Homo sapiens: one gene and its partner. The protein of the gene in region 1 purifies or fractionates together with the protein of each later gene. This does not show direct contact. Each region holds a gene or a part of one and is shown in the gene's direction. Other genes may lie near its edges.

Evidence for each region.
Region 2: the proteins of RETN (region 1) and ZNF664 purify together in Homo sapiens (affinity purification with mass spectrometry; one large-scale study listed by BioGRID and IntAct). This does not show direct contact.

What each region holds. Positions count from the first base shown.
Region 1 is NC_000019.10:7,667,258-7,670,981, forward strand, and holds RETN (resistin isoform a precursor), read left to right. Parts: upstream 1-1,791; 5' UTR 1,792-1,864; intron 1,865-2,015; exon of another isoform or gene 2,016-2,059; 5' UTR 2,060-2,069; coding exon 2,070-2,187; intron 2,188-2,563; coding exon 2,564-2,641; intron 2,642-2,919; coding exon of another isoform or gene 2,920-2,961; coding exon 2,962-3,092; 3' UTR 3,093-3,198; downstream 3,199-3,724. UniProt on the Homo sapiens protein: Hormone that seems to suppress insulin ability to stimulate glucose uptake into adipose cells. Potentially links obesity to diabetes. Promotes chemotaxis in myeloid cells.
Region 2 is NC_000012.12:123,979,616-123,983,432, forward strand, and holds part of ZNF664 (zinc finger protein 664), read left to right. Parts: intron 1-3,817. UniProt on the Homo sapiens protein: May be involved in transcriptional regulation.

The sequences.
Region 1 (3,724 bases):
TAAAATAGGCTGGGCATGGTGGCTCACACCTGTAATCCCGGCACTTTGGGAGGCTGAGGCGGGTGGATCACTTGAGGTCAGGAATTTGAGACCAGCCTGGCCAACATGGTGAAACCCCATCTCTACTAAAAATACAAAAAATTAGCCGGGCATGGTGGTGCACGCCTGTAATCCCAGCTACTCGGGAGGCTGAGGCAGGAGAATTGCTTGAACCCAGGAGGTGGAGGTTGCAGTGAGCCAAGATTGAGCCACTGTACTCCAGCCTGAGCAACTGAGTGAGACTCTGAAACAAAGAAACAAACAAAAGCAATGGTTAAAATGGAACAAGATGGTGCATACCTGTAGCTTCAGCTACTGGGGAGTCCAAGGTGGGAGGATTACTTGAAGCCAGGAGTCTGACACTAGCTTGGGCAACATAGCAAGACCCCGTCTCAAAAAAAAAAAAAAAAAGGCCGGGCACGGTGGTTCACGCCTGTAATCCCAGCACTTTGGGAGGCCAAGGCGGGCAGATCACAAGGTCAGGGGATCGAGACCATCCTGGCTAACACGGTGAAACTCCATCTCTACTAAAAAAAAAAAAATACAAAAAATTAGCTGGGCGTGGTGGCAGGCGCCTGTAGTCCCAGCTACTTGGGAGGCTGAAGCAGGAGAATGGCGTGAACCCAGGAGGCGGAGCTTGTAGTGAGCCGAGATCGCGCCACTGCACTCCAGCCTGGGCGACAGAGCAAGATTCCGTCTCAAAAAAGAAAAAAGTAAGTTATAATGGTAAGTTGTATGTTATATGTATTTTACCACAAAAAGGCCCGTTGTACTGGAAACAAAGAACAAATAAAAATGTAATAACCATTCCAAGCTCATGGGTGGTCCAAGAAGAAACATGAGCTGGACCTTGGCCCATGAGCAATGGCTTTCCAACTTCTGTTGCAGGTGATGCCATTGATGGAATAAACCATGATTTTTCTTTCTTCTTTTTGAGATGGAGTCTTGCTATGGTGCCCAAGCTAGTCATCCAGGATGGAGTGCAGGGGCACGATCTCAGTGCACTGCAACCTCCACATCCCGGGTTCAAGTGATTCTCCCACCTCAGCCTCCCAAGTAGCTGGGATTACAGGCACACGCCACCACGCCCAGTTAATTTTTGTATGTCTAATGGAGACAGGGTTTCATCATGTTGGCCAGGTTGGTCTCAAGCTCCTGACCTCAAGTGATCCGCCCGCCTTGGCCTCCCAAAGTGCTGGGATTACAGGCGTGAGCCACCGGCCATAAACCATGATTTTATTTACCAGTTCTATTGCTCATGGGCATTTGGGTATGAATGTGGTATGTCATTCTCACCCAGAGACATAATTATTATTACTATTTTAGAGAAGTGGTCTTGCTCTGTTGCCCAGACTGGAGTGCAGTGCTGTGATCATAAGTCACTGTAGCTTCGAACTCCCGGGCTCAAGCAATTCTCTCACGTCAGCCTCCTTAGTAGCTGGGACTACAAGTGCTTGTCCGCACCATGCCTAGCAAGAGGCATTAATTTTGTCATGTTTGCATCAGCCACCCTTGCATGCAAAACTCTGCTTGTCTACCTGTTCCTCAGACCACAGCCCCTGGCATTATCCCTGGGGCACCACCTCCTGACCAGTCTCTGGACATGAAGACGGAGGCCCTGTTGGAAGTGGGAAGGCTCCCTTCCTCCTCCAGCCCTTACTGTCTGCTCAGGGGCTTCCTCTTGGCCCCGGATGTGGGACCGGAGGGTTGGGGGCCCAGGGACTTATTAGCCAAGCCAGGAAGCCCCACCCCAAGAGGCCTCAAAGAAAGAGCTGCGGTGCAGGAATTCGTGTGCCGGATTTGGTTAGCTGAGCCCACCGAGAGGGTAAGTGACAGCTGCTCCTGCGCTTGCCATGGCACCAGCGGGGAGGCTGGGGTCAAGGCTGAGCCTCCATCCCTGTCCCCCACATGGGGGGACAGGGGTCCAGGTCCAGGGGCAGATCCTACTCCCTCCATGGGCCGGATCTTCCCCACAGGGCAGGGCTGATCCAGCTGTGGGTCTCTTGGTTCCCTCTTTCAGCGCCTGCAGGATGAAAGCTCTCTGTCTCCTCCTCCTCCCTGTCCTGGGGCTGTTGGTGTCTAGCAAGACCCTGTGCTCCATGGAAGAAGCCATCAATGAGAGGATCCAGGAGGTCGCCGGCTCCCTAAGTGAGGACCCCCCACTTGGGCAAGCTCCCCAAGGGTCTCAGAGACCTCACTGATCCCTGGCACAGACCTGACTCCAACCCAGCCCCAGCGCTCACCAAATCTCATCCTCAAATCCAACCAGATCATAAATTCAACCCCAACTCCACTCCCAACCCCTCCGACTGTCCCCACCTTATCCACGGCTCCAAACCCAATCCCCGCTCTCACTCCAAACCTTCCCTTACTCCAAAACACCCAACTCAAGACAGGGTCCTGGAGGCCAGTGAGCTCCTATGCCCACAGGGACCTAGCTCCAAACCAACAGGGCTAGGGGAGGATGGGGGAGGGACCGTTTGGTCTCACAGCTCCCCCTGTCTCCTTTCCTCCTGCCCCCCAGTATTTAGGGCAATAAGCAGCATTGGCCTGGAGTGCCAGAGCGTCACCTCCAGGGGGGACCTGGCTACTTGCCCCCGAGGTGAGTGCAGGAGACTGTTGTCCAGGCGCCCATTTCTGTTCCAAGTCCCCTGGGAATGCCCCCTCCCCGCCACGTTCCCCGTGTCCAGCCTCTACTCCCCTAGGATCTTGGTCCTGACTCCCAGCCTTCTCCGCCCACCATCTGGACACTGGTGTCCACCCTCACTCCCTGCCTCCAGTGCCCATTCAGTGGTTGGAGCCTCCAGCCGTCCCCGTCCCCACCCCCGCCCCCCCAACCCCCCTCCGCGCTCCCCACCCCCCTCCCGCTCCCACCCTCAGCCTCCCAGCTCAGAGTCCACGCTCCTGTGTTCCGGGCTGCAGGCTTCGCCGTCACCGGCTGCACTTGTGGCTCCGCCTGTGGCTCGTGGGATGTGCGCGCCGAGACCACATGTCACTGCCAGTGCGCGGGCATGGACTGGACCGGAGCGCGCTGCTGTCGTGTGCAGCCCTGAGGTCGCGCGCAGCGCGTGCACAGCGCGGGCGGAGGCGGCTCCAGGTCCGGAGGGGTTGCGGGGGAGCTGGAAATAAACCTGGAGATGATGATGATGATGATGATGATGATGATGGAGCGGATCTGAGCCCTGCGTGGTTTCTTTAGTAGGCCCGGAGGGACTGATCTAGCGTCTCCAAGAGAGTGGGGCGCGTAGCTGCTGGAGGGGGCGGGGACACCGCGACTTTCTACTGCCCCATCGCCCTTCCTCCTATGGGGTCTCCAACTGCTTCCTCCGAAAATAGGGCCTGAACTTCCTCTAGTGACGTCCCCACCCAAGGCTCATGGCTGCCTTCAAGAGGTGACGTCTCATCTTTGAGGCTACCTTGACGCTCACCCTGGGGTCTCCGACCTCCCCAGGAAGTGGCTGGGTCCTTTTCCCCCAGTCCTCATAATGAGGCTTCATCGAGGACCTGGGTCAGTCTGGGCAGTGGACGGGACCCTCCAGGGCCCCAAGACTCCAGGAGCCCCAGGTCAGGGTGGAACCCTGAATCATGTCTCAGCCCAGAGCTGGAACCTGTACCCCTCACTTCCTACCTGCAAGGAGGAATCCCCAAGGCACAGGCAAAGTTGGGTTACGGAGAGTCAGGGACG
Region 2 (3,817 bases), on another chromosome or scaffold:
ACAATAAATTTTGGTACCCATATACTGTGGAATATCAAGTAGCGTTTTGTTTTTTGTGGGATTTTTTGTTTGTTTTGTTTTGAGACAGGGTCTTGCTCTGTTGCCTAGGCTGGAGTGCAGTGGTACGGAATGTGGTTCAGTGTAGCCTCAGCCTCCTGGGCTCAAGTGATCTGCCTCAGCCTCTCAAGTAGCTGGGACCACACACACACACACACACCACTACACCTGGCTGATTTTTAAATTTTTTTTGTAGAGACGGAGTCTCACCACGTTACCCAGGCCAGTCTTGAACTCCTGGCCTCAAGTGATCCTCCCGCCTTGGCCTCCCAAAGTGTTGGGATTACAGGCATGAGCCACCATGTCTAGCCTATTAGTTTTTTATATAGAGAGGTAGATTTGTATGTACTGACATAGCCTGTATGGATGTCTAGAATATACTGTTGAGCCAAAAAAGCAAGCTTAATCTCATTTTTTGTAAGATACAAAACAAAATAATGAAGGGTGAGTGTGTGTATATATATATATTCTGAATAAGAATTAGAAAAAGACTAGAATACCTGAAAACATTTAATTCTGATTACTTCATGGGAAAAGCCTAGGGGAGACTGGTTTTTCATATCACATGTGTTTGCATTGCTTCAGTTTTTTTTACAATGGGCATTTACTTTTGTAAGGAAGATGTTACAATTTCTCACCAATTTCATGAAGGTCTAGATTTAGACAAAAATATACAGTGCCTAGTACCTAAAAGGATGTGGTAAAAATGACACACTCTTATGTTACATTGGCCATATGTGTCAAGAGTCTTAAAATTATTTACATTTCTTGATGGTCTAGGAACCATCAAAAGAATATTTTTAAATACAGAGAAAAGCTTTCTGCACAAAATATGTATATTGTAGAATTATATTTATGGGCACAGTTTGCAGAATGGTTATGATACATCCCCTATATCATATATTTAGTGGCAAATAACATTGCCATTAAAAACGTTTATGAAGAAAATATATTAAAATGCTTATGATAGTGTTAAGTGGAAGGAAATCAGGATACACAATTGTATACCTGATATGATGAAAACGCCCCAAAAAAAGTCCCAGCAGCCTTCCAGTAAAACCTATGAATGGCAAAAATATGTAGAAGAAATTAGATGGAAATCTTAAGAATTGTGGAATTCGGTAGGATGTCGGGTGATTTAAATAATCTTTTTTGTATTTGCCAAGATTACATGTACCTGTATTACATGTATGATGGAACATTTGATTTAACAAAGTATATCTGGGACATGATAGCTACATGGCAAATAGACATGAGCACTTTTTTTTTTGGTTAAAGCCAATGAATAAATTTGGAATTTACACTGAAAATGATTGGGACCCATTGAAAACTTGTGAGTAGGGTAAGAACAATCCATTTTGCATTTTAGAAGGTTACATTAGAGTAGATAATGGATTAGAGGGAAGCAAGACTGGAGGCTTTTGTAGAATTCCAGGGAAGATGATGGTGGCTTGAGTTAAGTTGAGACAATGCAGGTACACAGTGGAGAGTTTCCAGAGGTATTTGGAAGAGAGTGGCTAGACCTTTGTGATGGGGGGAAGTCAATGATATTGACTTGGGCAATTGAGGGGAGAGTGGACTCATTTACTATAGTTGGGAATTGGCTATGGTTTGAATATTTGTCCCCTCCAAAACTCATGTTGAAACTTAATCCCCAATGTGACAGTGTTGAGAGGTGGGGCCTTTCAGAGGTTTGGCTCATGAGGGCAGAGCCATTCATAGATTAATGGGTTGTCATGGGAGGGGACCTGGGGGCTTTATAAAAAGAAAAGAGATCTGAGACAGCATGTTAACATGCTCAGCCCCCTCTCATCGTGTGATGCCCTGTGCCGGCTCAGGGCTCTTTGGAGAGTCCCCACCAGCAGGAGAGCTGTCACCAGATGTGGTCCTGGGCTTTTTCAGCCTCCATAACTGTAAGAGATAAATTTCTTCATAAATTATCCAGTTTCAGGTATTCTCTTGTAAGCAATAGAAAACAGATTAAGACAGGAATATAGTAGGCTTTGGTGAGGAAGTGACTGATTCAGTTTTGGATGTACTTGAGTTTGAAGGTCTTATAGGACACATAGGTGTGTCACGAAGAGGATTTACAAAGAATAATTTTACAGTACACATGTTTTGCTGTAAGAATGACTAGATACTATACATAGCTATGGTATTAAAATCAATATTTCTACATGGTAAATTTTTCTTGCAATATAGTTGTACTTCTGTAAATTGGGGCATATCTGTCTAGATAGACTGGACCATTGATATTTTTCACATAGAATTATTTGAGACTGCATGACCTCGACTTCAGATAATACCATGATTGTCTTTGGGGTTCATTGGGTAGACTCTTGCCTCTCTGAGTGGGTGGTGGAGGTTCCTCTGGGCATTAGTGGTCCTTTTGTCAGTCATCCTGTTGTCAGAGTACACCTGACTTCTGGGAGTGATTTCTCTTCATCTTGGTAAACTGGTCCCTTCCACGTAGGGGCAGGCCAGGAAATAGGCAGAGTGGTGCCCTTTCATCCATGTGTGAGTGCCCACCTGGCTGTTAATAGTATGGCTGGAGCATGGGTACCTTGAAGGACAAGTGGAGAAAAGGTAGCGGAGAAAGTGCCTGCCAAGGTAACAGAAGTCATTAGAGAGGAAGGTAGATGTCTTCATCAGAGGTTGGGGCCCAGTCGCTGGGAAGTTGGTGGCAGTCAGTGTGGCTGTGCTCTTTGCCTTCATCTCCCAGGCTTCTCCTGCTCACTGTGTGTCTGCCCTATGCTTCTATGTGTGCCTGCCCTCCCCCTAATCTCTTCTCTCGCTTGGCAGTAAATAACACGTGACCCCAGGTGGTCACTCTGGAAGGCCATTCTGAAACTCTAACTTCTGCCAGCTCACATCACAGACCCAGTCTTTCCACTTCCCACTTCCCAATTCCAAATTCTCTAGAAGGACAATCTGATTGGCTTAGCTTGGGTTCCACGCTCACCGTATCGGTTTTACTGTTGCAGCGCTTACAGGAGCAGATTCATTTAGTGTGAGCCTGGTGGACTGGCTAGAAGGGAGTGCAGACGAGGACACTCAGGAGAGACGTCCTGGAAGTTAGAAAGTTTCAAGAATGGACAGGAGCAGTAGTTTCAAACGGCCTAGAGATGTAATAAAGGGATCAGGAGTGAATCTTAGATTTAGCAAATTGAAGTCTTTCAGCCCAGGTTGAAAGTTGTGTCTACTGGGCATGGTGGCTCATGCCTGTAATCCCAGCACTTTGAGGGGCCAAGGCAGGCAGATGGCTTGAGGCTGGGAGTTTGAGACCAGCCTGGGCAACATGGCAAAACCCCGTCTCTACCAAAAATACAAAAATTAGCCAGGCATGGTGGCACACACCTGTGGTTCCAGCTACTTAAGAGGCTGAGGTGGGAGCATCACTGGAAGGCAGGGCTGTAGTGAGCCATGATCACGCCACTGTACTCCAGCCTGGGTGACAGAGCGAGACCCTGTCTCAAAAAAATAAAAAAAGAAAGCAAGCAAGTTGTGCTACAGCTAATCCATGTGGGAGAGTCACAAGGTGGAACCAATGGCTATGATTACTCATTTGTAAGACACTGAAAGAAGAGAATTTTTAAAATACAATTTAATTTTGAAGATGTAGCAGAAGCATTCAAAATGTAATTTTAAAAATATAATTCGTATTGCTTTTTAACGCTAAAACATTTCTACACCTTTATTCTGATTCTGAAATACACAGTGTCTCTTGTGTCACTTGATACATTATAAGAAATTCAGTAAA